Homo sapiens: one gene and its partners. The protein of the gene in region 6 interacts with the protein of the main gene of each other region in a biochemical or structural test. Each region holds a gene or a part of one and is shown on either strand. Other genes may lie near its edges. The genes, in order: ARHGEF7, CCDC134, CACNA1A, KCNJ1, PLCB1, DLG4 and SLC15A2.

Region 1 (4,284 bases), on a different chromosome or scaffold from region 6:
TGTGACTCCTGTAAGCATATGTCAGCTAGCATACTTTCACAGGAAAGTATAATGACCCGAAAGCATTGAGAGCAGCAGGTCCCTGTGAGAGTGAGCCTTGGTACAAAGTTGCTGGCCAGATAAGCGCATACAGCTCCATGCGGATGTGTGCACAGGACTCCTGCAAGTCTTTCTGCACACTATCTATCCTTCAGTTCACGTGGGCTTCGGGCCACACTGACTTCAGCTGGATCAAACTGATCAACAAGTCCACACTCAGCTCTAAGCCTCTCTAACATGCCATAAGCCTCTCTCCTGTGTCAAGAATAAAAAGTAGCTCACAAATTATAAGATAGAGCTTCTATTAGACATTTTTCATCGCTTGAGATGCCTTTAAAATCTTCTGCTATGAGCTCCTAAGAGTGGGACAGAAACCCTGGTGCGTGCATGTGGGCAGCAGTACCTCACTTCCGGCACACTGAATCAGGACCTGGGACATGTAAGTGACGTTGCCCAGAGTTTTAATGTCATCGCCCTCCCAGTTCCGGATGGCTTCCGTCAGGATCTGCAGCTCAAGCTCTTTCCTCTTCCGGACTTCTTGACATTGGGCCTGACAGACACAGAACAACACTGTTAACAGACATAAACTTTCAGAATGTTAAGTTCCGGCCACATTGCTTTGTATCATCCTTAAGACAATTATTGCTTTATATCTTACTTCTTCAGACAGATAATTTATTGAGCGATTTGCTTAATTATAGGGAATTGAAAGTATTTGCTTAGAAGTATGAAACCAAGTTAAGAGAAGCAACACACACAACTGCTCTGGAATACTAAGTATTATTTTAGAAAGATAGAGCACATTTTGCCACTTGTACAAAAAAGAAATGTGGACAGGACAAGAACTGTATTTTCATTCTGGTTTTGTTCGTGTTTGCCAATATGGAAGACTGAAAAGAAGAAACAGAAAGTATAACTTGTGCTATAAAATAAGGCCATATATTTCCAAAACGCAGTTGGTAAGACAACACAACAGCAGAGAAAATGGAACCACCATTGTTCTGTTTTGCAATAAATCATTAAAGACAACATGAATGAAGGGTAAAAAAATGTTTTAAACAATTTTAAAGTAGATCTAACATCAATTACACAGTGACTTTAAAAAATTTAAATAATTATTCTATCATAGTCCACTAAAAGGAGTTTACCAGCCACAGAATGCCGACTCTGTTTTTCTTTCATGTCAGCACAAGTCATTTTTTAATCATTTGACTTTTTCAGTTGATAATTCTTTTACATTCATTTGTCACAATAATGTCTGGGGGGGAAAACAATATGCTTAATCACTTACTGAAAGGTTTTTGAAGGCAGCCATGGATTTTTGAATATCTTGTCTATCTGTATGATAATCCTTTGAGTAAAAGAAACATACAATTAGCTTTCATAAGGAAAAGCTTTTCTTAAAAAGGTACTTTCTACAGACCAGCTTGAAACTTTTCTAACACTTTTCAACCCTTAACATTCCCTTTTTCCCTCAGCATTAAAGTGTCAGTCTTTCAGCAAATCACGAAGCCATTAGACTTTGGGGAAATATAAGTTGGAAGAGAACAGTCACAAGCAGCAGGGGTGGGGAAGCCAACACTTGCTTCATCAATAAAGTCTTATTGGAACACTGCCACGGCTCACATACAGTATCTAAAATGGCAGAGCTGTGTAGCCGTGAAGAAGACCCTACAGTCTGCCCCCTTATAGAAAAGGTTTGCCAACTCAAGCCAAGAGAGTAACTTCAACCCAAATTTCTGCTAGGCTGCAACCTGTTATTCAAAATTAAAAGAGCACAATCATTCATCAAATGATTAGTACAGTATTACCCTATAACCTATGCACACATTGTTTGTAGCTGGATGATCCAGGTAAGACATCTCAACACTATCTGAAAATCAGTTCTCATGTTTCAGCTTTTGGAAACTTTTCAATCAGCAGCAGTGGGTAAAAGAGAGATAAGGGGTAAATGTTTTCTAATAGAGCTGGAATAAGGAGAAAAACATAATATTTAACAAAACTCTTTGTAAACTCTGTTGGTTCTGGCTTCTAAAATAAATCATGAATAATACTTTCTTTCACAGTAAGTCTGACCATGCCACTAACCCTTGGTAAGGACTCCAAGTAAGAGAATGAAAGCGCAGTACCTCCATGTGTCTCTCGAGCTCTTTGAGCAGCGTAGGGTATTTATCCAGGCGCATGAAGGGTTTGCTCAGGCCCGTGGTCAGCACGAGAATCCCAGGGCTGCTGGCACCTTTGGTCTCCATGAACTCCCCCAACTCCTCACTGGGCAGCAAGTGGCAAGAGAGACACTCGTGGTTAGCAATGAGAGACAATGGTGGCTCTCTCATCTCCATGAGCAACAGCCAGAATTTATGAAACATAAGTGTTGCTTTTAACATCTGGAAGGCTCCAGCTTTTATCCCAAATCTGCGCTGCTTATCTGGAAATGCCAAAGGGGACTCCCATCCCTAAGGGGTCCCGTTCCTGCTCTCATATGAGCAACAATAACTATACACAGCACAGGACATGTGGGTCTCCATGAGATCCTACTGATGGCGAGGTCCTCCAGCACATCAGTGCCATGCAGACATATCCAATGGAAACATGCACACTCAGAGCCAGAATGGATTCCAATAATCTCAGAGTCTCAAGGTGGTAGAACAAGGACCGAGCTGCTCCGGTAAAGAGCTAGAGCACACTGATGGTAGTCATCCCCAGATGCGAGTTCGTCCAGCGAGCAGGCCCCACCTATGTGCTGCCAGCACTCAGCCTGGGAGTAGGCAATGGCTCTTGGGGTGAGGAGCACGAGAAGCAGCAAGAGAAGAGAGCAAACGCTGATTTAGGCTTCAGAACTTCAAAAGCTTTAAGTTTAATCCTCACAATACGTGAGGAAGAAAGGGGTCCCTGTGTGCAGACAGCGAATGTTGATTTACGCTTTAGAACTTCAAAAGCATTGTTACATTCAATCCTCACAACACGTAAGGAAGGAAGGTGTCCCTGTGTATGGACATAGAAACAGTGCATATCCCAAAATTAAAGAGTCAGAAACAAGTTTTAGAACTTTCTGTATTCCTCTTCAACCATCCCCTTCACAGTGCCTCGCCTATCTTTCCCTACAGTGGGTCCTCATGTGTGTCATCTTTGTCCTCAGAGTTCCCATGGCTGTGGCAGAGGACACGGGCAGGCTTCTGTGGGGGGTCCAGCTCTTCACCCACACGTTTGTTAAGGCTGACAGTCACCTGACCGCAACACCCCTTCACTGGCGATCTCTGAGGTCTCTGTCAGGCCCTGGGTCTGCTGTCCCTCAAATTGCATGTGCCATCAGTCCACACATCTGACAGTGTACAGCCCACAGAAAGGAGGGGAGGCAGCACCAGCGCTGGCAGCCGATGCCAGGTCCAGACCAGGATGACTTCTCAGTCACCACATCCCATCCAGGAGACCCAGGTGACCCCCGCCCCATCACCACGCCCCATCCTAGAAGATAGGGGTCTCTAGTCAGCAGAGCTTGGTTCAAATGATACCCATGGCACAAATCCTAGGAACAAATTTTCCTAGTCTAGAGGTTTTCCCTTAAAAGGAAAAGATACTTTTATATCCTCATTATGTAAACGATGTCCTAAAATAAACATGAAAATCCTAACAGCAAAACTGAGAAACAAGCCAATTTCCGGTTCTGGTCTCACAGGAGCCTCCCACCGCACCACCCCAGCCAAGCTGGCTACTGCCAGAGGTCTCGGGGACACCAGAACCATCAAGGGCTCCCGGGGAAAAGACAGACAGTGTTTTGGCTAACCCAGAGGAAACTGAGTCCACAAATAGTGAACATTAACAGTTTCAGAGAGTTCAACCTAAACACAGCTTCCCATAAGGAGGACTGAGAGCCAGGGTGGTGCCAGCCCTTCCCGCTTCTCACCCTCCTTATTCCATGTGGATCCCCTGCCAGGGCAGCCAGGGAGAATGTCCTCCAATGAAACCGATTCAAACACCATGCTGAAAACCAAACAGTCATTAGGAAACCAGCCTTCCACTTCCTAAGCACGTAAGACCTTCTGAGAAGGCCACTTACATCTCAACGCTTTCTACAAAACCAGGGTGGTCTCATTAACCAAGGCCAGGGTGCAGTCCTATGCTGTGTAAAAACAGTAACGATGTGGGTGCGGCACCTCTGTCTGCCCTTGCCAACAAGAAATACTTCCAATAAACACATACATATACACACTTAACAGATATTATCAATACTAAAGCAAATTATAAAAA
Region 2 (4,284 bases), on a different chromosome or scaffold from region 6:
CTTGGCTGGGGTGGTAATTCTCTTAAATGTTTTTTGTTAGTTCCTGTAATTTTTTTTTTTTTTTTTGAGACAGGGTCCTGCTCTGCTGCCCAGGCTGGAGTGCAGTGGCACAGTCATGGCTCATTGCAGCCTCCACTTCCCAGGCTCAAGCCATCCTCCCACCTCAGCCTCCTGAATAGCTGGCACTACAGGTGCATGCCGCCATGCACGGCTATTTTTTGTATTTTTCTTAGACGTGGGTTTTGCTACATTGCCCAGGCTAGTCTTGAACTCCTGGGCTCAAGTGATCCACCCATCTTGGCCTCCCAAAGTACTGGGATACAGGTGTGAGTCACTGCACCCGGCTACTATAGCTTTTTTCTCTGGTTCTAACTCTGCTGTTACGGCCTGACACTCAAATATTCTGTCTTGAGGGCCTAGAAAAACAATGTTTTCCTCTAGTATAACTTGATTCTGTACTTCGGGCTTTTCTTGATGTGTCTGAATTGTTCCATTTAACCAGGAAATTTCTCATGCTTTTAACTAAGAGCCAGGTATTCCCCAGTTGAAGGCACTAGTTTTTGTTTTGTTTTGTTTTTTTGAGACGGAGTCTTGCTCTGTTGCCCAGTCTGGAGAGCAATGGCACGATCTCGGCTCACTGCAACCTCCGCTTCCTGGGTTCAAGCGATTCTCCCTGCCTCAGCCTCCCGAGTAGCTGGGATTACAGTTGCCTGCCACCACACACAGCTAATTTTTGTATTTTTAGTAGCAACGGGGTTTTGCCATGTTGGCCAGGCTGGTCTTGAACTACTGACCTTAGGTGATCCACCGCCTCAGCCTCCCAAAGTGCTGGGATTACAGTCGTGAGCCACCGTGCCTGGCTGGTACTAGTTTTCTTGTTTACATTCCACTATAATATGATGGAAACTCATAACCTTGGACACACTCTGCCTGTGTCTGATGAAATTCACAACTTTTTCATAAAACCTGAGCTATGAAAGGGTTAAGATTTTTTTGTTTTTACACCCTGGTAACCTTCTGTATTGCTTGCGACACATAAATAACAAATTGACAAATTTCCTTGTCCACTGCTGATTATAATGAACTTCCATTAGATTTTTAACCATGGGGACAGGCATGGTGGCTCATGCCTGTAATCCCAGCACTTTGGGAGGCCGAGGTGGGCGGATCACAAGGTCAGGAGATCAAGACCATCCTGGCTAACACAGTGAAACCCCGTCTCTACTAAAAATACAAAAAAAATTAGCCGGGCGTGGAGGCATGTGCCTGTAATCTCAGCTACTTGGGAGGCTGAGGCAGGAGAATCGCTTGTACCCAGGAGGCAGAGGTTGCAGTGAGCCGAGATCGCACCACTGCACTCCAGCCTGGGCAACAGAGCGAGACTGCGAATCAAAAAAAAAAAAAAAAAAAAAATTAGTCGCCTAAAAAAAAAAGATTTTCAACCATGGTTGTTCCAAGTCTTTGTCATCTGTGGTTCTGATTCTTCTCTAAGAGCATTTGCAATCAGATTCATAAGAAGACTCTAACAAGTAATCTTAAATACAAGTTTCTAAAAACTTAAAAACTTTAAGATCTATGGACTAAATAAAGAATTTTCAGAACTCTAATGAAGAAACTGATGAATTCCTGAAATCTCTAATCAAAATCAAACAGAACTCAATTAAAAACTGATGAAGATAATTTTCTTTTCTTTTCTGTATTTATTTATTTATTTTTGAGACAGGGTCTCACTCTGTCATCCAGGCTCACTGCAGCCTCAACCTCTTGGGCTTAAACAAGCCTCCTACCTCAACATCCTGTGTAGCTGAGACTACCAGCACATGTCACCATGCCCAGCTATTATAATTTTTAAAATCTTTTTGTAGAGGTAGGATCTTGCTATATTGCCTAGGCTGGTCTCAAACTCCTGAGCTCAAGCAATCCTCCTGCCTTGGCCTCCCAAAGTGCTGAGATTACAGGCATGAGCCACCCTGCCAGAGTAATGTGTTTATGACATATATTTGGAATATTATTGGTTCTTTACTTGTTTTGTTTTCTAAATTTAAGGAAACTTTTTCTCTTAAGCTATCTATAGTTTACAGCAATTCCATAAGAAATACTTTTGTAAAGAGAGGTGGAAACATTTACTTTTTCTCCCTATTTAACCCATCTAAAATTTGAAAACTATTCAAGAAAAGTATTCTTTTTTTTATTTTATTTTTTATTTTTTAGACAGGGTCTCCCTCTGGAGTACAGTGGTATAATCATGGCTCACTGTAGCCTTGACCTCCCAGGCTCAATCAATTCTCCTTCCTCAGTCTCCCAAGGGCCTGGGAGTACAGGCATGCACCACCACACCCAGCTAATTTTTGTATTTTTTAGTAGAGATGGGGTTTGGGCATGTTTCCCAGGTTGATCTTGAACTCCTGGGTTCAAGTGATCAGGCTGCCATGGCCTCCCACAGTGAAAGGATTACAGGCGTGAGCCACCATGCTGGTCTATTCATGAGTATTCTTACGGCAATGTGGTTATTTGCAAAAGTCCAGTAAGACTTTGCTCTCTCTCTTTTTTTTTTATTTTGAGACAGAGTCTCACTCTGTTGCTCAGGCTGGAGTGCAGTGGCACGATCTCAGATCTTGCAACCTCCACCTCCCAGGTTCAAGTGATTCTTGCGCCTCAGCCTCCCCAGTAACTGGGATCACAGGCGAGCACTACCATGTCTGACTAATTTTTGTATTTTTAGTAGAGACAGCGTTTCACCATGTTGGCCAGGCTGGTCTCGAACTCCTGGCCTTAAGCGATCTGCCCACTTTGGGCTCCCAATGTACTGAGATTACAGGCGTGAGCCACTGTGCCCAGCCTGTTCTCTCTTATAACAGAATACAACAAATATTGCTTATATTACCAGGGCTTTAACTAGAATATCATACTTGAGAATGTACATAGAAAGCCTGCCTTCAAAGATTCCCAGCCTTACAGTGAATGAGTAAAATCTGTCACTTCCTGGCAGGCCCAGGAACCTTAAGACTGTTAAGTAAAATCTAAAGTCTGCCTTGGTTTTGCTTCCTAGCCTTAAATGGTTTTTAAATCTGTTATTCCTATGTGATCACTGTAAAGAGAAAATTTTGTTTCTAAAAAAAGCTATAGTACATCTGTTATTAGACTGCAGCCCTGTGCATTGTTTTTGAGTTCTCATTATCTACTTGTATACTGGACTAGCTCCTGAATTCTAGATTCCTCCAATCTAACTTTCTTTCATGAAATTATTAAAAATTGGCACTGCTCTGTTCCTGAAGCCCTGTAAGTTGAAACTAGATGAACTTTAAGGTACAAGCCTTGTGCCTAATGTATGGGTCACACAGGAAGTTCACCAAACATCCCAATGCCATAACCAGAGACATTCAAACTGCAAACCAGGATAAGAAGTTGATGGTTTCATACTGTAGATAGCTTTTCCGAAGACACTGGAACAAGATTCCATATCATTTTGAGACTCTTACTCGTTTCTTTTTTTTTGAGTAGGAGTCTGGCTCTGTCGTCCAGGCTGGAGTGCAGTGGTGCAATCTCGGCTCAATGAAAGCTCCACCTTCCAGGTTCACGCCATTTTCCTGCCTCAGCCTCCCGAGTAACTAGGACTACAGGTGCCCGCCACCACGCCCGGGTAATTTTTTTTGTATTTTTTGTAGAGACGGGGTTTCACCATGTTAGCCAGGATGGTCTCCATCTCCTGCCCTCGTGATCCGCCCGTCTCAGCCTCCCAAAGTGCTGGGATTACAGGCGTGAGCCACCACGGTGGGCCTCTCAGAACTATTATGCAAACTGAGATTATCACATTGCTATTACTTCCTATTTTCCTATTTATTTATTTTACATTATTTTTGGAGACAGAGTCTCACTCTGTAGCCCGAGCTGGAGTGCAGTGGCACCATCTTGGCTCACTGTAACCTCTGCCTCCCGGGTTCAAGTGATTCTCCTGCCTCAGCCTCCCGAGTAGCTGGGATTACAGGTGTGCATCACCATGCCTGGCTAATTTTTGTATTTTTTGTAGAGACGAGGTTTCATGATCTTGGCCAGGCTGGTCTCGAACTCCTGGGTTCAAGCAATCTGGCCATCTTGGCCTCCCAAAGTGCCAGGATTACAGGGGTGAGCTATCGTGCCCAGCCCTATTTTCTTTTTAAACTTTATACCTATTACTTTTTAAATTTTTGTTGAAGTATCACTCCTGACAGAATAATGCTGGCCCAGAAGTTTGCAATGACAGCAAATGCCTATGGAACAGCCAAAATTGAACTTAACAATGAACTC
Region 3 (4,284 bases), on a different chromosome or scaffold from region 6:
CTCTAAACATTTCTGACCATTCCAATTTGTGTAAGACCCAAACACTCCATGTCCTTGTAAGGCCCTCAGAGAAGCTAACCTATATTTGGTGCTCTGAAGTATTTGATGTCTTCAAAGACGGTGCCCTTAGGGAGAAGGTAAGACTAGAGACAGTATAGTTAGAGGAAGGGGAAGCTGTGGGGAGATTGGAGAGTCTGGCAATGGGGCATAACAAATGAGAGAAAAAGATTAGAAACATGGAAGAAGGATTGCTGAGACGTGGGGAAAATCCTACTTGGGCCTAGGAATCATGGAATTCTAGTATGGACAATCAATGAGACCTTGTGATTGTGTTCTCCTTGGCTTATATATTGGAGCAACAGTGATTCAGCTGATCATTCAGAAGAATGGGTTAACAACACAGACGCCAAAAATAACAGAGATCAAGGGAGTTGAGAGACTTGGCAAGAAAGAGCAGAATATTAACACTTATGCAGCACCTACTGTGTGCCACACACTATTCTCAGCAGTGGATCAGAGAAGCCCAAATATGGCCACCCACATAAGTCCATCCATCTATCCACTCTTCCATGTATAAACACATATAGTGCTTCCTAAGTGTCAGGCACCACTCTAAACATCAGATGTATTAACTCATTTAATCCTCCCAGATAGGAGCTATTAGGATCCCCATGGAGCTATTAGAATCACCACTGGGACAGACTGGGAAACTGAAGCACAGAACACTTAAGTGACTTGCCCAAGATCACGCAGCCAGTGACTAGTAGAGCTGGGATTTGAACCCCAGCCACCTAGCTCCAGAATCCATGCTCTCAACTCAACCATGCTGCTTCTCTACAACCATATCAATTGCCAGTGTCTAAACCACAGGTTCTGACTCTCAGAATACAAGCAGGACCAAGAGCTAACCGGTTGACCCAGCCTCTTAGAGAAAATGATGAGTAAGCTGTGAAATGTCTTAGCTCCTGCCATAAATGCTGATGAATCTCAGCTGATTCTAGGTGAAGCTAGATTTCCAAGTACACAGACTAAAATTAACACCTCGAATTCATTCATTCAAAATTATTGATTCCTTACAGCAGCATTGTTCATAACAGCAAACAAACAAACAATCCCCCACCCCAAACTAGAAACATCCCAAATGCCCATCGTCCTGCTTGAACCCGGGAGGCGGAGGTTGCAGTGAGCCGAGATCGCGCCATTGCACTCCAGCCTGGGCAACAAGAATGAAACTCCATCTCAAAAAAAAAAAAAAAAAAAAAAAAAAAAAAAAAATATATATATATATATATATATATATATATATATATATATATATATATATATATATATAAATTTATGTTGTTAAAGCTGGGTACGGTGGTGCATGCCTATAGTCCCAGCTTCTCGGGAGGCTAAGGCAGGAGGATCGCTTGAGCCTAGGAGGTCGAGGCTATAGTGAGCCATGATCATGCCACTGCACTCCAGCCTGGGTGACAGAGTGAGACTCTGACTCAAAATAAATAAAATAAAATTCATTGAGTTGGCTACTTCACAGGATGATTATATATGCCATGTGCTTTCTGGGTACAGTATCTTTTAACCTTCTTACAATTCCTCGGACATAGGACTACTGTCCCCGTTTTACAGAGGAGAAGACTGAGGCTCCACAACTGTGAGCTGGAGCTGAGATTTGCAGCCAGGGTGGACTGTTCCCAAGCTCTATATGTCTCCCCTCCATCCAATATCACCTTCCCTCCTCTTTTCCTCCTTACAGCCTCCACTGCTTGTGCTGTTAATCAAACAGACACATTCCTATGCAGACGCCACAACATGCCACGAACACATTTCACTGCAGTGATGGTCAGCATAGCCCTCCCACCCACACACACCATGCCCATCATTCTCAATAAAGAAGATAATAAAGATCATGGAGATAAAAGAACGTGACAGACTCTGGAAGATCAGAATCCATGTAACACCACTGCGGGCCAAGTTTTAAGTCTGCCCCAGAGTCTCATTGAAGACAAATCCATCCACTTTTACAAAAAGGTAACATCCAGACTTCGCCCTCCTGCAAATGCTGTTCGTATGAAAATACTTTAAAAATCAGTTTAAAATTACATATATTTTTTACACATAGGCCTAAAATGAGAACAGAACTTAACAGCATGAATATTATTTACTGGCAAGTGGGTGACTAAGTTGGGTTTCCCTCATGGCTTCAGAGAGGGGACTCTTGAATCCTGTTATTTGGGGGCTGGGGGTGGGAGGCTGCTAATTTCTAACTGCAGGTGCCGCCTGAGCAACAGGCACCTTTAAGGAAGACTCACGGCTGCTCCCAGTCTGAACGGCAGATAAAGCCGTGTCTGACCGAAGCGAGATGTCAAAACTTGATCCGGACTTAACTCAGGCATTTCCCTTCATAGCTGGAATCTCTCTTGTATTAGCTGCCTTAAAGACGGCTTCTAAAAGCTGCATTCATTCCAATAAAAAGTCTTGGCTTTTCAGAGGGAATAAGTAACTGACTCTCCCCCTTTCTTGGTCAACGGCACCATCTCTTGCACCATTCTTCTCTCTCAGGTGTTAAGAACTCACCATTAGGGTGACCAGCGTCCCAGTTTGCCCAGGACTGTGAGTTTCCAGAGATGCTAAACCCAGGATAGTCCCAGGCAACCCTGGCTGAAGGGTCACCCTACTCAGATAAGAACTGAGGCCCAGTGGTTTTTGAAACCTAAGTTGCTGTGCCCACTCATGGTTCCCTCGCCAGGAATGTTCCTTGTTTTTCCTATTTTTTTAGGGAGTGAGGAGAAAGAAGACCAAAGTTTGGAAGGGGAGGGGGGTACCTAAATTCTAAACCAAAAGTTGAGCAAAGTTTTTCTGTGGAGTTTGCAGTGGACACCTGGGGTGGCCATCCTGGGCTGCACTCTCGACCGGCCCCAAAGGAAGAGACAGGGAGTGCAAAAGGGGAAGAGGGAAGCTAATTATATACTTTAAAACTCCCTCACCTTGTCACCCACAGAGAGAGGGAGGGACCAAAGGAGGAAAGAGAATTAATTTTTACCTTAGACTCAAGGGAATAGAAAAATGGGTCAAGTGGCCACGAATTTTTTTTCCCCTGAAAGCTTCCAGAGAGAACGGAGAATGCAAAATGTCCAAAGGTGGCTTTAAAGAGCGCCACGATCAGGTTAATCAATCCACACTGACCAGTCGCAGGGGGTGGTGGGGGGGGGCACTTCGCTCCCATTCCCACCCAGAAAGCCTCTTTTCTGGCCGGTTTCCAAAAAAAGAACACTGGAACCTAAATGACTCCATAGTATTACGGCTCTGGCGTTTTGGGGTTTTTCTCTGTGCTGGAGACTGTGCTGGCCATTTTTCACGCACGACCCCATTTAATCTCCTGAGAGCCCTCCAAGGGAGATGCTACTAGAAGGAATATCCTCATCATGCATGTCAAGAAATAGGCTCTGGTGCCCAAGATAACATGGCTGGTGAATAATGTGAACCTGGGCCAGTCTGACCCAGAGTCCGGAGTGTTTTCCCTCTCCTCTCTGCCCTCTTTCAGAGCAGGCACCATCCCATCCGGCCCTTTTCTCAGGAGCTGAGCTGGCATTCTCGGAAATGCGTTACTGCACGGCTCTTAGGCTCTGATCATTTCTGGATGGAGTCCACCTTCCCGGCGGTGCTTTTTATTGCTGAGAAAGTGTATATGTGTGCTTGCTACTGGGGGGGAAACAGGGAGGGGGAAGCATAAGCCCTACGCACCCAACAGATGCCTCCCACTCCAAGTCCCTGAAGAAAGACTTCATTCTCAAGGGGCCGCTGCATCCAATCTACTCAAGCACTAACATTTCAGAAACTTTCATTGGTCTGATAATCTCATGGACAGTCTCTCAACCCCCTGCAACTAAAACCCATCAAAATCCTAAAACGTTGGCACAAGGGTAGATCAGATAGATGTTATACAATTTAGTTAATGGGTGAAGACAGGTACCTTTTCTCATTTGCTCAGCAAACGTTTATAGGACGCCTGCTTTGTCCCACACACTGGGGTTGCAGTGGTGAAGAACAGGGTAAAGATCATGGGTCTCACAGCCTCAGAGCTTGACTTTTTCCTGGGGAATGGTAGAACTACCAGGGAGGGGTGGAACCCCACCCAAGAGAACCCCTTCTTTCTCTCTCTCTAGTGCAGGCACATAGCTTTGAATGACATCCTTAATCTTTCTTATTTCTCTGACCGGGATTTAACACTATTACTTCCACTCCTTTCCATAGATCCACATCCTTAATCCTAAGCCATCGAGG
Region 4 (3,673 bases), on a different chromosome or scaffold from region 6:
GTCTTGATCCTAGCAAAGGGATATTTAGAAGCAGATGGGCCTCCACCAAATAACCCAGAAGTAAATACCAATCAGAAAGATGTATGTTGTTCACCTCCCTAAACAATCAAAGGGAATGGATTGCTTATGACCATCTCACTTCCAGCCATCTACATGCATGCTGCCAGCCAGCAGGAGAATACACCAGGAAGAGTGCATGCTGATGGGAACAAGTGTCAACACAGTTTCCCTCCAGTTTATGAAGGGGCTACATCATGACAGTGGGCCAGCAGAGAATTCCAGCTCCCTCAAGCTTGTGATACCTGATTTCTTTTTCCTGTCAGCACATTAAATTGTGGTGCCAAAGCACTCACAGGTACAGAGTGAGAGTTCCACATGGGCCAGCTATGGCCACTGTTATGGCCACTGACAAGGTGTGCAACCCTAAAACCATCAGACTTCCCACTGTTCTTAGTCAGAAGGACCAGAGTGGTGCATGGATCTGTACAAATACAGCCCAGGCATGGAAAAACATAAGCCATCCCTCCCAACAACTGTGGGCAGCTGCCGTTTTATGTGCCAAGACTCACACTGGAGAGGCGTGATGGAGCTGTACCGGAAGGGGTGTGTCTGTGGCCAGGGTCATTTCCTCCTGAGGACTCCAGACAACAAATGTGTCCTATCTGCTTCCTCTCCACTCCTCCCGCCCCTTCCAGGAGAGGGTCCTCTCTGCAAGAGGATTTTCACCTGGAACCTGACTCAGTTAATGCATAGTAATAATAATAATCAAAGTGCATGCACAGTTTCAGAAATTTACTATATTAATCAACACACTGAAAACATTTTGATTCCTAAGCAGCTTTGAGTACCAGTTTTTTTCCAGGACACATTCGGAATGATGCAGGTGGGGATCTGAAGAAGACTTTCACAGTAAAACTTTCCCCTCAAGGTCGAGCCTTCCATAAGCTGGTCCCTTTTAGGAAGATGGGCTGTCAGGGAAAGAAAGACATAGTAACATTCTGACTGTGGGGCTCCATCCCATTCCTCTCTCTTTCCCACTTCTTCTTTAGAAATAGCATTCCAGTACAAACTCTAGGTGGAGGAACACATGAAACTGTTTCTTCTCAGGTGCATTAATGATACATTCCCTTCTCTACTGACTTTGCACCTTCCAACTCCTCATTGCTGTCTTCGAAGAGCAGGAAATGCTCTTTATAAACAGATTTATAGCCCTTTAAGCCATCCAATACAGATTGAAAGAAATATCATCACCACTTTTAACTAAAGCATTCTGTCTTGCAGGAAGGTATCATCAAGATTCTAGTGTGCAGATTTAGCCTCTGTCTAAACGTACCACATGAGAAGCTTAGAGCCTCAAATTGTTCTTTGTGTAAGCGTTTTCTTGTCATTGATTGGTTGGTTCATCTCCCCAAATTAGGAGACAATTTTTCCATGAGTAAAAGTCCACATTAAAAGTGGAGTCATTCTTATCAGTAGAATCAAAATGAGATTATTATTGTCCCCTGATCCTTTCTAAAGTTCATAACTTCTTTAAGGAAACTTTAAAAAATATTTTGTTTGGCCTGTTCATGAAACTTTTGATAATTTTATCTGCTCCAATCCACCTTATATGAGCTCAAATAATCATATTTAAGATTTCAAGAGAGCACCTATGTCTTCCATACACCAGTTTCATATAAATGCATTGCACGTTCTAATACAGTAGCCTTGTGGAGATGCATGTCTTGTGGGATCACAATTGCGGGGCTCAGGGGTCTTTGTGCTGGTAGACTTTGAAGGCTCTCATCCTACTTTCGTACCCCTAAATTGTTGACTGCTTCATAATGCTTCTAGGTACTAGGAGCTTTAGAGACTTTGCTTTACTCCCGTTGAAAAGCCACTGTTACATTTTGGTGTCATCTGTTTCATTGACTTCTGACAAGATGAAGTTGGGGTTGTCATAGCCTCTCTTCATCCTGGCTCTAACATCTTTCTCATTATAAAGGCACATGGCACAGTGAGGGGTCTCCACTTCCACTGTCTTGCTAAAGTTATGGAAATCCACTCGGTATTTCCCTTCCTTTGTCTTGGATACTATGGGAGCAAAACGGTAGCCCCAAAGCACCTCCTCTGGGACATAGGATGTCCGGACTTGGCAGGTAGCACTGGTGGACTCCACTGTGCCATCTAAAAACACCACTAATTCAAAGTCCTGCTGGAGAAGGGTCTCCGCTGCCATGTGGAAGAAAGGGCTGTTGTGATCAATGACATGGTAAATTGTCAATGGGGAGATGAAGAATAAATTTTCATTCCCAGCGTCAACTACAAAGTTGATATTGATCTGGTCCAAAATAATGGTCTCTCCTTCAGGAGTGACTGTGGTCTTCAGAAGCTTTCCATAAATGTGACTGCCAATAAGAAGGCTCTTCCTGAGATTAGCCACTCGGATTAGGAGGCAAAGCTTCCCTCCCCGTTTGCTGATCACTGCGTTCTTGCTGAACGTAATGGTCTTGGCACGTTTTTTGGGCCTGGAGATCTTGGCTAAGATGGCCCCACACATGAAAGAATTGATTATAACTCCAAGTATAGACTGAAAGATAAGCAGAAAAATGGCAGTGGCACACTGTTCTGTCACACACCTGAATCCATATCCAATGGTCACTTGAGTCTCCAGAGAAAACAGAAAAGCTGAGGTCAAGCCATTAATATTCTCCACACAGGGAGTGTGATTGGCAGAAGGATGGAATTCCGGGAGGTCTTTGTGAATGTACGCTACTGCATACCACAGGAGACCAAAGAAAAACCAACTCCCCAAGAAGGCTGTGATGAAAATGGTCATTTTGTATCTCCACTTGAGGTCAAGTACCGTTGTCCAGATGTCCACAAAGAATATAAACCTTGACTGTGCCTCCACATTGCCAAATTCTATGTTGCACCTTCCATCTTTGGAGACTAGCCTTGCTCTTTGCCGAGAATGCCCAAAAAAGCGAGTGACGACCCATTTCCGAAGATGTTTGAACATACTTTCTGTCAACACCCTGATCTGAAAACACATCAAAGAAAAACAAAAAAGGATTATGTTTATAGCAATAGTGAACTAGGTGACCCACATGAAAGACCTAACTACGAAAAGATCATTCAAAATTATCTGGGTTACTAATCATTTGGCAAGCTGACAAGTTTATTCTGGATACCACAATGCTATTTCTGATAGAAACTTTCCACTGGAAGACCATGTTACTCAAACATAAAGAGGCAAAATAATTACAGAGAGCTAGAAATGAAGACAAACTAAGTGATTATATATTCAAGTGTTTCCTGACCTCAATTAGTCTCACACAACCTTAAATATGTTTGTAATAACCAATTATGACCTGTATTTTTATTTATTGAATATTACTTAAATCACCTTCTCATAAGTTTAGCCTTATGTTAAGCAATAATTTCTGAGAAATCACAAACTTGAAGCATTATGTATGTTTTTGAGATATAGAAAAATGAATAACTGACCAATAAAACACTCATCAATATACTACCTAAATCATCTATGTACTTCTATTGATACTCATATATCAAGAAAAATCCTAATTCAATTCTGTTCTCTCATTTATCAAATGAGAAAACTGAGATTTAGAAAATTTAAATAACTTGTCCAAATGCATGTACCTAGCCAGTGGCAGGATGACAACTAGAA
Region 5 (4,284 bases), on a different chromosome or scaffold from region 6:
TTTCAACTTTATTAGATAGAACCCAGACAAGATTGAATGACCAGCTCTCAGAGGCTAGAGATTTTGGGGAATTTAAATAATATTCCTTTTAAAGGAAATATGAATTTTCTTTATCTCAGCCACTATATTATTCCCTACTTCCACTCTACTTCTTTGAGTTATAATTAAAATGTATCATTTATCATTTGTACTATCAGATGATATGAGTTAAATGTATATGTTTTTATGGCCGTCCATTTGAGGCATACTAGAATGAATTGATTTACAATACAATTCTGAAAATCCAAACCAGTGATTAACAGAATTCTTGAAGGGTTTTCAGAATGGCTTTCAAAAGGTAATTGCTTTATAAGTGTGTAAATTTTCAAATTAAATAACAAATAATTCACCATTTCATTATTTTCTCAGTGTAAAACACCTGAAAAATGCAGTTATAACTCATATCAAGAACATGTGACCAACCTTTTTGAACACAATAGGTTCTTCTTCCCAGACAGGATTCACAGCATTTCCTTGGGATGTTTTGGTCTTAAATGCCTTCCTCCTTGTATCCACAGGCAAACCAAACATATCTACTTCCACGTAAGTCCCAACTTTCTTATCAGAAAGAAACTGACCTGAAATAATCTAGAAAATCAATAAATCAATCAATCCATAAGGAATTTTGATATGCAAATAACAAAGACATAAGAGAATACTTTAAAGAGCCACAAATGCTCTTCAGCAAATGTTGAATTATAAGCAAAATGGAATAGAAGCAAGAGTAGAAATATGATTTCCCTTTCACTTAATGGGTTATGATATGGTTTGGTTCTATGTCCTCACCCAAATCTCATGTTGAATTGTAATCCTCACATATTTGGGGAGGGTGATTGGATTATGGGAGTGGTTTCTCTCATGCTGTTCTCATGATAGTGAGTTCTCACAAGATCTGATGGTTTAATAAGTGTGTGGCAGTTCCCCCCTCACTCTCTCTCTTCTCCCTTCATGTGAGGTGTGCTTTGCTTCCCCTTCACTTTCCACCATAATTGTAAGTTTCATGAGGCCTCCTCAGCCATGCAGAACTGTGAGTCAATTAAACCTCTTTTCTTTATAAATTGCTCAGTTTCAGGTAGTTCTTTATAGCAGTGTGAAAATGGACAAACACAGGTTGGTAGAAGGATATTGAAAATGGTGAGGTTAGAAGTAGTCAATTAATAAGACACAGTATTGTAGGAGGAATAAATGAACAAGTATTCACTTTAAACCATCAAGATAAGTTTATCATTACCCCTAATCTCACAAGGTGTCACCATCTTTGTCTAGCTACAGAACTAATGGATATTATAGACTTAAAAGAGATTTTTAATATTACGTATTTATAAATGTCTTCCATGTCTGCCTCTGTTTCTATGCAAATTTTCAAAATCTGAACTATCCACCAGCTGTCATAAAGGTTAGCGGAGGCAAACAAGATGTGCTTCTGCTGTATACCAGGAAGGGGAAAGCAGGAAGCAAGTGCTGACAGAGCAAACCTGGTGAATCTGGGTTATGTGGTTACAAGAAAATTGCCTGCTGGTCAAGAACTTTCTGAGCTCCAGATTGTGAAAAGGGGACAGCATTATGGCTGGGCTCACAATCTGAGCTCAAGATTGTGAAAGGGGACAGAATTATGGCTGGGCCAGAAATCAGACAAAATGGTGGCATGAGAATAGCTATCAAAGGCTGAGTAAAGTCAAAGTCAGCTATATGCTGATGTTGTCAGAAATTCTGAGTAATTCAGAGAGAAAGTCATCAGGAAGGCTCTCTGAATTTGCCCTGGGACAACTCATTTCCCCTGTATGTTCTATTTGGCTTGAGTGCATGGGACCTGCTAGCAACAATCTCTTTGTTTAACTTGAGGTTCTATGTGAGAACTATGTCTATGAAATAAGCAAGCATTTCAAAACATGTTTGAAACTTCTAAGTTATGCAAGTCCTACTTGGAATTCAGATGCACAGAAGATGTTGTATGTTTAAGATGTTTGACCAAAGCAGAGTCCTAAACTAAATTCATGACACCAAAACCACAATGCTCTCGTCAGTAACATAGGACGGTAGAACATCATGTGAGCTCACAAGTCCATTCTGGCATTATAAAATCTATGCCAGAAGATGAAAACAAAGGCATAATTGGAAAGTTATGATCTGTATCTTGGCTCTAGCTATAATGTCAAAGGTAGGACTCTACTGCAGTGAGAACTGTCCATTCAGGGGAGACTGACAGCTCTGGAGCAGCGTCTCCATTCTGGACAGGAGCAGCAGGTTACACTTGTCTGGGGATCAACTATTTCCCCTTCACAACTCAATGTACTTTCCTGCCTCTGTGTCATTGTTTTATAATTGCTTACTGTCACAGTAGGATTTTCAAGACAAAAAAAGAAATAAGCAAACAAATACATTCAAAACAAGACGAATCTGCAAGCAAAGCAAAAATATTATTAATTCAACCGAACTATAACAACAATTGACAAGGATTCTAAAAGTAGCATTCTATCAGTACATGGAGCTTATGAGTTTATCTTTATCACACCTGACAGGAATTAAACAGCCTTTTCTGAAAATACTTTCCTAAAATAAACTCTAATTCTGCCAACTTGAACTCTTTATACATGTGGCTTGAAGTAATTTCAAAAGATATAATTATGAGACACTTCACTGAAATTTTATTCTTTAAACCCTTGATATAAAGTGACGAAAGTTTTAAGGTAAAAATGTGCTCAACTGCTTAGGGTAGAAAGAAATTAGTGAAGCTGTTATAGAAAGCTTTTTACATAGTTTTTCAAATGCCTTTGTTTAAGGTTAATCAAAAAATTACATTTATGTCCAGTAAAAAAATTTCTTAGTTCTATAGTTATTCAGTTAAACAGAAAACAGACAATATTTTTGAAAAGCTTTAACGATGAAGAATCCATGTAAAATGTATTCTAAAAAATTGATTTTCCTTTCATAGTATTAAAAATATTTTCTGGTAGCTAAAAAATTATATCTGATATAAAATCAATTTCAAAGACTAAAAAAATTTAGAATTGTTTAGGGTCAGATATACATATGTATGTGTATATATCTATGATTTTTATATATTTATGACATACATGTATATATACATATATATTTAATAAAGCAACTCTTTTATTTAATGATCATTAATATGTGTTTTAAAATCTCTGAATACTCTGGAAGATTTTCAAAAACCATTTAAAGTAATTTGAAAGCTTTTGTTTAACATTTGATAATTTATTGAGGGAATGTTCTGTCTCTAATTTTCTAAGAACCAAACGGGGAAAAAAAGACCGGAAAATCTCTCCAATATGGGCCACTAATTATCATGTAAATTTCATAGTAGGTTAGTTACACCAAAAAAGAGGTTTGCTTATGATGAGTCTCTCCAACTCATTTTATTGATTTAGAGTCAGATTTTTATCATTAAGAATAAAGTTCAGTCGCTTTATCTTATTCATGTGGCCTATGAAAACTTTTTTTTTTTTTTTTTTTTTTTTTGAGACAGAGTCTCGCTCTCTCGCTCTGTCGCCCAGGCTGGAGTGCAGTGGCGCGATCTGGGCTCTCTGCAAGCTCCACCTCCCAGGTTCACGCCATTCTCCTGTCTCAGCCTCTTGAGTAGCTGGCACTACAGGCGCCCGCCACCACGCCCGGCTAATTGTTTTTTTTTGTATTTTTTAGTAGAGACGGGGTTTCACCGTGTTAGCCAGGATGGTCTCGATCTCCTGACCTCGTGATCCACCTGCCTCGGCCTCCCAAAGTGCTGGGATTACAGGCGTGAGTCACTGCGCCCGACCCTACCAAAACTTTTATTATTATTATTATTATTATTATTATTATTATTATTATTATACTTTAAGTTTTAGGGTACATGCGCACAATGTGCAGGTTAGTTACATATGTATACATGTGCCATGCTGGTGTGCTGCACCCATTAACTCGTCATTTAGCATTAGGTGTATCTCCTAATGCTATCCCTCCCCGCTCCCCCCACCCCACAACAGTCCCCAGAGTGTGATGTTCCCCTTCCCGTGTGCATTCATAGATGGGAATTGAACAATGAGAACACACGGACCCCTTACGAAAACTTTTAATGTGTATTTGATCTTTAGAGAAAAAAAATGTAGGAAGAAAGTAGAATCTTTCCTAGTTACTAAATTTTTAATGACTAAGCCACTTCTTTATGCAATGTAGATAAATTCAACACTATTGTTAGGAACAATTTTGTGATGGGGTATACCTACCTTAACAGACAAAGTGTTTGCC
Region 6 (4,284 bases):
GCAGCAAGTGCTGGGGCCAAGGCAGGGGCCAGGGCTCACCTTCCATCTGCGTCACTGTCTCGTAGCTCAGAACCGAGTCTTCTCGACCTGGTGGGAGGTGGGGCATCTGCAAGGGGCTCTGAAACAGGGGACCTGGAGCCCTGTCTCCCCCTTGAGGATATCAAAAGCAACTCAGTGCTCCTCTCACCCACATCTTCCCGAACTAACCCTACCTACCCTGCGATCCAGAGCTGGAGCCCCAGTCCTAAGAAGAAAAAGCAGGCCACGGGGTTAGTTATGAGCTCAGCTCCATGAGCCCTCACACTTCCACCCAGGCTCACACCCTCCTCCACCTACCTTGGCCTTTAACCTTGACCACTCTCGTCGCTCAACCCTGTGGGATACATGGAGGGATACGCGGGTAGGGGAATGCCTACCCCCTGCCACCCCCATGCTCTGAGCCAGCTGACAACCCCTTCTCCATACTCTGGGCCAGCTGACACCCCTTCTCCTGCAGCCCTGGACACTGTGCTCCTCAATAAGGAGTTGTCCTTCCCAAAGGCTCATGGGAGCCACGGACCCCAGGAGGGCCCAACAGACAAACCCCTAGGAGTTCAGAGGGCAAACCCATCCCCTGTTGGCTGCCCACCCCGGGGGACCTTGGGAACTTCAGTGCCTGTGGCAGGAAGGCTACAGAGCCCAGGAGCCTCACCGCCGTTTGCTGGGGATGAACCCAATGTCGTCGGTCTCACTGTCAGAGTGGACCCGCCGTGCCTGCCACCACTCCTCATCACTAGCATCGATGACATGCAGCACATCCCCAAAGCGGAAGCTCAGGGCCTGGCTCAGGAAGCCGCAGTCCTTGGTCTTGTCGTAATCAAACAGGGCCCTGGAGGGCAAGTGGCTATCGGTCAGAGCCCAGCTGAGGACTCCAGGAAGGATGCCCCAGTCACCCAAAGACCCGGCCCAGAGGTCTGCAGATGGCACTCCCATGGGAGCTATGGATGCCGAGGAACCCAAAACTGTGTGGGGACCAAACGCTGACTATAACTCATAACAACTATTAGCCATCACTCAGTCCACACTGAGCACAGTTTCCAGAGGCAGGGCTTGAACTTGACCCTCTCAAGAAAGCAGTTTGGGCCAGGCGTGGTGGCTCCCACCTGGAATCCCAGCTGACTTTGGGAGGCCAAGGCGGGCGGATCACAAGGTCAGGAGATTGAGACCATGGTGAAACCCCGTCTCTACTAAAAATACAAAATATTAGCCGGGCACGGTGGCGGGTGCCTGTATTCCCAGCTTCTCGGGAGGCTGAGGCAGGAAAATGGCATGAACCCAGGAGGCGGAGCTTGCAGTGAGCAGAGATCACGCCACTGCACTCCAGCCTGGGCAACGGAGCGAGACACCGTCTCAAAAAAAAAAAAAAAGAAAAAGAAAAAGAAAAACAGAAAGCAGTGTGCAGTACACACGCACATCATAAAGTCACAGGGGTAACCCTGAATCTGCCCAAATTCATAAGAAAAAGAAAATGTCCCGTGTTTCCAAATAATGGTTACCCTTACCAGTATCAAATTTCTATCAGTAAGTCACAACCCCTGGGGTCAGAACCAGGGAAGTAATGAAGACACAGAAGAAAGCAATGGGCCTGGAGAGGAGGGAGGAGACCCCGGGCCCCCTGGAAGTGTGACAACCAGATGACATTCCGCCTGGGAGCCACTACACAACCTCTGTGGTCACTGGGAGTCAGAACAACCTTGGGGACCAACCGGACCCGAGCAGGGAGGAAGGGCAGAGCAAGGGCTCAGGTGGGAGCCAGTGTCTGGGTGGCTGGTGATGCCATCCAACAAGAGGGAAACTGCTGGCACAGCAAGATGGAACCCAGGCCCACAGCAGGATGATGAGCTCAGCGTGGGACATGTTGAGTGTGGGACGCCTGTGGGACATCCCAGTGGAGATGGCCAGAAAGCCAATGGCCAGAAGTGCAGGTCTTGACCTCTGGAAATAGGTCAGCCAGGGCCAGCACCTCCGAGAGACATCTGCAGAGCGCAGCGGCAGACGAGGCCATGCAAGCCACAGGGCCAGACAGGGACAGAAGTGGAGGGGTGACCCCCGGGGGCGGGAGAGAGGTGTGTTTTGGCAGAAACCTAAGCCACAAAAAGAGTCAATGGAGACGAGCCCTAAGAGGGGAGCAAAATGCCGCTGGAGAGACGGGGGCAGGCACCACAGAGCTGCGGCCCACGTCTCCGGGACTGCCCACAGGGACGTGAAGGCTGGGGCAACACTCCAAATACCCTAGAGGACCCTGCTTCACCAAGCATTAACCTTCGAGACGCCAAATTGTGGGGTGGCCTGGGAGTCCCGGGGAAGTGCTGGGATGACCAGGGGCTAGAAGGCAATTGGGATACTTGGGGCAGAGGCTATTTTCCCATCGACAGGGAGTATTTCAAATGTTAACCTGTGCAGCCAAGCCCATGAACCCTGGCTGCGCCTCAGGCCTGGGGTGGGGAGCTAGAGCAGGCAGGGTGGAGAAGAGGAGCGGCTGAGGCCCGGGCCAGGCACAGAGTGCCCAGGAACGCAGAGGGGCTGAGGAGTCCAGCCCGGGAAGCCTCTGACCTGATGTAGAAACCCCTTTTGGGGTTGCTCCGCAGGGACGCAGTCCCTGAGCCCAGGCTGCTGTTCATGAGCTGTTCCCGAAGGTCGTGGATCTTGGCCTCGAATCGGCTGTACTCTGAGGAAGGACAGGGAGGTTTCTGAGCTCTGTCCCCATCCTACTGTCACCCCTGTCCTCCCCTACTGAAGCCATCAGCTGAGGAAGAGTTCTAAGGGCCATTTCAGCTCACAAGACAAGGAACTTCCGGCCTGGTACCTTCTGGTTTATACTGAGCGATGATCGTGACCGTCTGACCCGCATTCTTCAGGGCAATGGCAGCCTGCTCATGGCTGGCATTTCGGAGGTCCACACCGTTGACCTAGAGAGAGGACGACAGGCTGTGTCACCAGAGACAGGAGGCAGCACTTCTGGGTCCAGGTGGAGCAGGGAGTGGTCCCGCAAGAGGACTCGGCTGCAGCCCATCCAGGCCCCTCCCCAAGAGCTCTGCGCTCTGCCCTGTGGGGAGGGGGTGGTGCAGGTAGGGGCAGGCCTTCCCTCACCGACAGGATCTGGTCCCCCTTCCGCAGCTCCCCACTGAGGTCTGCAGGGCCCCCGGCCAGGATAAAGGAGATGAAGATGCCTTCACCGTCCTCGCCACCCACGATGTTGAAGCCCAGGCCCGTGGAGCCCCGGTGGATCACAATTCGCCTCGGTTCTCGGGGAATGTCTTCCTCCCCGAGCAGGTCCTTGGCCACTGGAGAGTAGCGCCGAGGGGAAGTGGGGGTCATGGCTGTGGGGTAGTCGGTGCCCAGGTAGCTGCTGTGACTGATCTCATTGTCCAGGTGCTGGGAATAAGCTGAGGAAGACAGGGCAGAGATGAAAGTGCCTGGAGGGAAACAGCACCCGCCACCCAACCTTCTCCCCAGGGTGCCAGAAGAGCCAAAGTTAGGTGGAAGGGAAGATATTCTGCCAGAGATGCCAGGGTGGGGTGGTAAGGGGATATCAGATCACAGTGACATCAGGGGTCAGGAATTTATAGGTGACATCAGAGGCTGGTTGTCCTAGGGGATAAAGGATTTGAACGTTATATGTCCTCAGTATGCCAGGGATGGGGAAGTCAAAGGGAGCATTAATATTACGCTTTGGGGGTTTTCTCTGGGTTCCTGTGTCACTCGAATCTCTTAATCCATAAAATTCTTCTCCCTCTTTTTTCCCCCCACCTCTCTGCCATCCATTCGTTGAAAAAACTAGGTCATTTGTCTAAAAGAATTTCCCACATTCTATGAGGGAAATTCTTTTGTTTTTTTGGGGTTTTTTTGAGAAGGAGTCTCAGGCTGGAGTGCAGTGCCGTGATCTTGGCTCACTGCAGCCTCTGCCTCCCAGGTTCAAGTGATTCTCATGCCTCAGCCTCCCAAGTAGCTGGGATTACAGGCGCGCGCCACCATGCCCAGCTAATTTTTGTATTTTTAGTAGAGACAGTGTTTCACCATGTTGTCCAGGCTGGTCTGGAACTTCTGAACTCAAATGATCCACCCGCTTATGCCTCCCAAAGTGCTGGGATTACAGGCATGAGCCACCTTGACCAGCCTATGAGGGAAATTCTAACAGGGAAATTACTGCTTACCCTCCTGTGGTTTGTTTAGCCTATGCCTCTGCCCCTGTATCTCCTGTAAACTGGCAGTTCATTCTGGAGGCTTGATCAGTTTCAAGTTCAA
Region 7 (4,284 bases), on a different chromosome or scaffold from region 6:
CTACCAACCAAAAAAAGGCCAGGACCAGACGGATTCACAGCTGAATTCTACCAGAGGTAGAAAGAGGGGCTGGTATCATTCCTTCTGAAACTATTCCAATCAATAGAAAAAGAGAGAATCCTGCCTAACTCATTTGATGAGGCCAGCATCATCCTGATATGAAAGCCTGGCAGAGACAACAAAGAAAGAGAATTTTAGACCAGTATCCCTGGTGAACACCAATGTGAAAATCCTCAATAAAATACTGGCAAACCGAATCCAGCAGCACATCAGAAAGGTTATCCACCATGATCAAGTCGGCTTCATCCCTGGGATGCAAGGCTGGTTCAACATATGCCAATCAATAAACGTAATCCGGCATATAAACACAATCAACAACAAAAACCACATGATTATCTCAATAGATGCAGAAAAGGCCTTCGACAAAAATCAACAGCCCTTCATGCTAAAAACTCTCAATAAACTAGGTATTGATGGAACGTATCTCAAAATAATAAGAGCTATCTATGACAAACCCACAGCCAATATCATACTGAATGGGCAAGAACTGGAAGCATTCCCTTTGAAAACTGGTACAAGACAGGGATGCCCTCTCTCACCACTTCTATTCAACATAGTGTTGGAAGTTCTGGCCAGGGCAATTAGGCAGGAGAAGGAAATAAAGGGTATTCAATTAGGAAAAGAGGAAGTCAAAATGTCCCTGTTTGCAGATGACATGATTGTATATCTAGAAAACCCCACTGTCTCAGCCCAAAATCTCCTTAAGCTGATAAGCAACTTCAGCAAAGTCTCAGGATACAAAATCAATGTACAAAAATCACAAGCATTCTTATACACCAATAACAGACAAACAGAGAGCCAAATCATGAGTGAACTTCCATCCACAATTGCTACAAAGAGAAAAAAATACCTAGGAATCCAACTTACAAGGGATGTGAAGGACCTCTTCAAGGAGAACTACAAACCATTGCTCAATGAAATAAAAGAGGATACAAACAAATGGAAGAACATTCCATGCTCATGGATAGGAAGAGTCAATATCGTGAAAATGGCCATACTGCCCAAGGTAATTTATAGATTCAATGCTATCCCCATCAAGCTACCAATGACTTTCTTCAGAGAATTGCAAAAAACTACTTTAAAGTTCATATGGACGCAAAAATAGCCCACATTGCCAAGACAATCCTAAGCCAAAAGAACAAAGCTGGAGGCATCAGGCTACCTGACTTCAAACTATACTACAAGGCGACAGTAACCAAAACAGCATGGTACTGGTACCAAAACACATATATAGACCAATGGAACAGAACAGAGGCCTCAGAAATAACACCACACATCTACAACCATCTGATCTTTGACAAACCTGACAAAAACAAGCAATGGGGAAAGGATTCCCTATTTAATAAATGGTGCTAGGAAAACTGGCTAGCCATATGTAGAAAGCTGAAACTGGATCCCTTCCTTACACCTTATACAAAAATTAATTCAAGATGGATTAAAGACTTACATGTTAGACCTAAAACCATAAAAACCCTAGAAGAAAACCTAGACATTACCATTCAGGACATAGGCATGGGCAAGGACTTCATGTCTAAAACACCAAAAGCAATGGCAACCAAAGCCAAAATTGACAAATGGGATCTAATTAAATTAAAGAGCTTCTGCACAGCAAAAGCAACTACCATCAGAGTGAACAGGCAACCTACAGAGTGGGAGAAAATTTTTGCAATCTACCCATCTGACAAAGGGCTAATATCTAGAATCTACAAAGAACTTAAACAAATTTACAAGAAAAAAACAACACCATCAAAAAGTGGGCAAAGGATATGAACAGACACTTTTCAAAAGAAGACATTTATGCAGCCAACAGACACATGAAAAAATGCTCATCATCACTGGCCATCAAAGAAATGCAAATCAAAACCACAATGAGATACCATCTCACACCAGTTAGAATGGCAATCATTAAAAAGGCAGGAGACAGCAGATGCTGGAGAGGATGTGGAGAAATAGGAACACTTTTACACTGGTTGGTGGGACTGTAAACTTGTTCAACCATTTCAACCATTGTGGAAGACAGGGATCTAGAACTAGAAATGCCATTTGACCCAGCCATCCCATTACTGGGTATATACCCAAAGGATTATAAATCATGCTACTATAAAGACACATGCATACATATGTTTACTGCAGCACTATTCACAATAGCAAAAACTTGCAACCAAGCCAAATGTCCATCAATGATAGACTGGATTAAGAAAATGTGGCACATATACACCATGGAATACTATGCAACCATAAAAAAGGATGAGTTCATGTCCTTTGCAGGGACATGGATGAAGCTGGAAACCATCATTCTGAGGAAACTATCACAAGGACAGAAAACCAAACACCACATGTTCTCACTCATAGGTGGGAATTGAACAATGAGAACACTTGGACACCAGGCGGGGAACGTCACACATGGGGGCCTGTCATGGGGTGGAGGGCTGGTGGAGGGATAGCATTAGGAGAAATACCTAATGTAAATGGCGAGTTCATGGGTGCAACAAACCAACATGGCACATGTATACCTATGTAACAAACCTGCACGTTGTGCACGTGTACCCTAGAACTTAAAGTATAATAAAAAATAAAAATTAAAATTAAATTAAAATAAAAAAATAATAAACACGTTTAAGAGAGTGGTTCTAAGTGATTGCCCAGGTCAAAAATCAAAACTGATGAGCCTGGGTAATAGGATATAAAATCTAGGAACTATGACTAAAAATGTTTTCCTTTCTTAAAACCAACTTGACACTACAAATAGCATCCTTGAGAAACCAATATGCATGTTTAATAATTTTTGTTTTCCCACTGCGTACCTATTGATTAGTCTTTCCTGTATGTAGCTCTGAAGGAAGCCTCACTTCTTTCCTGGCATAGGGAGTTCCTTAAACAAGAGTCAGGGACTCTGGATGCCCATTTCCTCTTAACATATCTATTATTCTGGGATAGCAAACAGAGGAAAGATTTTTAATAGAAGTTGTTTACTAACTTCAGGAAATTGCCCCTTCAGGGTTTGAACAATCTTTCTAATGTTAGAGAAGGCTTTTCACCCTCAAAGTAACACGTGAATAAAAGTAAACACACCACACACACACACACACACACAAACACATACTCAGGCAGAGAAACATATGAGAGGTGGGGAAGAACTTAACGGTTTGAAACAAAAATCTATCCATTTTCCTCTAGCAAATGAAGAAAATAGGCTACAGGTTCAAATTAGAAAAGACAGTAAAGGAAGAGTCTTGTCTTTTTTCTGATTTTCCAACTTAAGGAAGGGTAGTTTTAAATACTTATTCCCTTTTGTTGCTGTTATCATCTGTTTGTATATGTTACACACACATGCACACGCACACACACACAAACATGACTACAGGAGAACAAGTTACCCACATTTTCTCAAACTACTCCCTTTGTGAAAGAGATACAAATCACCCCCAAGTTTTCTTATTTAAAAAGCAACCAAAATACCCACAATAAAATAAAAGTAACCTTCATGCCTGTCTACATCTATCTGCAGTCATGTGGCTACATTTGAGGGTCTGAGGGTGAATAAATTTATGAATTCGAAGATTTACTGTGGGCCTATCTGCTAGGCACTATTCTACGTGCTCTTGGATAAAAATATAAATCACAGCCGGGCACAGTGGCTCACACTTGTAATCCCAGCAGTTTGGGAGACAGAGGTGGGTGGACCACTTGAGGTCGAGTTCGAGACCAGCCTGGCCAACATGGTGAAATCTCATCTCTACTAAAAATACAAAAATTAGCCGGGCATGGTGGTACATGCATATAATCCCAGATACTCAGGAGGCTGAGGCAGGAGAATCGCTTGGACCTGGGAGGCAGAGGTTGCAGTGAGCCGAGATTGCATCACTGCACTCCAGCCTGGGTGACAGAGCGAGACTTTGCCTCAACGACAAAAAATATGTATATTATATATATACTTATATATTATACATATTATATACATTCATATAATATATAAATGACTGGGGTGGGTGGGGAAAAATATATATAAATGACTTTGTCCTCTAAGTGTTTGAAAGAAGATATCAGATTCATATATAAATAATTAAATAACTATAATAAGATAGAGTTTAGTAAATGTCATATAAGGGTGAGAAAACAAAGAACTCAGAAAACACTATATTACTTCCAGCTATAGTAAAAGGTGAGGGGGCAGAGAATACTCCATAGCATAGGTGGTATTTGAGTGAGCCTTACGGGGTTTGG

The links.
Region 1: the proteins of DLG4 (region 6) and ARHGEF7 interact in a test that uses a peptide from one of them, tested with the Homo sapiens proteins (one large-scale study listed by IntAct).
Region 2: the proteins of DLG4 (region 6) and CCDC134 interact in a test that uses a peptide from one of them, tested with the Homo sapiens proteins (one large-scale study listed by IntAct).
Region 3: the proteins of DLG4 (region 6) and CACNA1A interact in a test that uses a peptide from one of them, tested with the Homo sapiens proteins (one large-scale study listed by IntAct).
Region 4: the proteins of DLG4 (region 6) and KCNJ1 interact in a test that uses a peptide from one of them, tested with the Homo sapiens proteins (one large-scale study listed by IntAct).
Region 5: the proteins of DLG4 (region 6) and PLCB1 interact in a test that uses a peptide from one of them, tested with the Homo sapiens proteins (one large-scale study listed by IntAct).
Region 7: the proteins of DLG4 (region 6) and SLC15A2 interact in a test that uses a peptide from one of them, tested with the Homo sapiens proteins (one large-scale study listed by IntAct).

What each region holds. Positions count from the first base shown.
Region 1 is NC_000013.11:111,271,837-111,276,120, reverse strand, and holds part of ARHGEF7 (rho guanine nucleotide exchange factor 7), read right to left. Parts: intron 2,308-4,284; coding exon 2,169-2,307; intron 1,391-2,168; coding exon 1,331-1,390; intron 590-1,330; coding exon 443-589; intron 1-442. UniProt on the Homo sapiens protein: Acts as a RAC1 guanine nucleotide exchange factor (GEF) and can induce membrane ruffling. Functions in cell migration, attachment and cell spreading. Promotes targeting of RAC1 to focal adhesions. May function as a positive regulator of apoptosis.
Region 2 is NC_000022.11:41,803,344-41,807,627, reverse strand, and holds part of CCDC134 (coiled-coil domain-containing protein 134 isoform 1 precursor), read right to left. Parts: intron 1-4,284. UniProt on the Homo sapiens protein: Molecular adapter required to prevent protein hyperglycosylation of HSP90B1: during translation, associates with nascent HSP90B1 and the STT3A catalytic component of the OST-A complex and tethers them to a specialized translocon that forms a microenvironment for HSP90B1 folding.
Region 3 is NC_000019.10:13,496,248-13,500,531, forward strand, and holds part of CACNA1A (voltage-dependent P/Q-type calcium channel subunit alpha-1A), read right to left. Parts: intron 1-4,284.
Region 4 is NC_000011.10:128,837,243-128,840,915, forward strand, and holds the end of KCNJ1 (ATP-sensitive inward rectifier potassium channel 1), read right to left. Parts: intron 3,023-3,673; coding exon of another isoform or gene 3,002-3,022; coding exon 1,883-3,001; 3' UTR 778-1,882; downstream 1-777. UniProt on the Homo sapiens protein: Inward rectifier potassium channels are characterized by a greater tendency to allow potassium to flow into the cell rather than out of it.
Region 5 is NC_000020.11:8,733,371-8,737,654, reverse strand, and holds part of PLCB1 (1-phosphatidylinositol 4,5-bisphosphate phosphodiesterase beta-1), read right to left. Parts: coding exon 4,263-4,284; intron 628-4,262; coding exon 463-627; intron 1-462.
Region 6 is NC_000017.11:7,193,628-7,197,911, forward strand, and holds part of DLG4 (disks large homolog 4), read right to left. Parts: intron 3,426-4,284; coding exon 3,130-3,425; intron 2,949-3,129; coding exon 2,846-2,948; intron 2,708-2,845; coding exon 2,593-2,707; intron 869-2,592; coding exon 692-868; intron 374-691; coding exon 337-373; intron 245-336; coding exon 217-244; intron 88-216; coding exon 40-87; intron 1-39. UniProt on the Homo sapiens protein: Postsynaptic scaffolding protein that plays a critical role in synaptogenesis and synaptic plasticity by providing a platform for the postsynaptic clustering of crucial synaptic proteins.
Region 7 is NC_000003.12:121,900,716-121,904,999, reverse strand, and holds part of SLC15A2 (solute carrier family 15 member 2), read right to left. Parts: intron 1-4,284. UniProt on the Homo sapiens protein: Proton-coupled amino-acid transporter that transports oligopeptides of 2 to 4 amino acids with a preference for dipeptides. Transports neutral and anionic dipeptides with a proton to peptide stoichiometry of 2:1 or 3:1.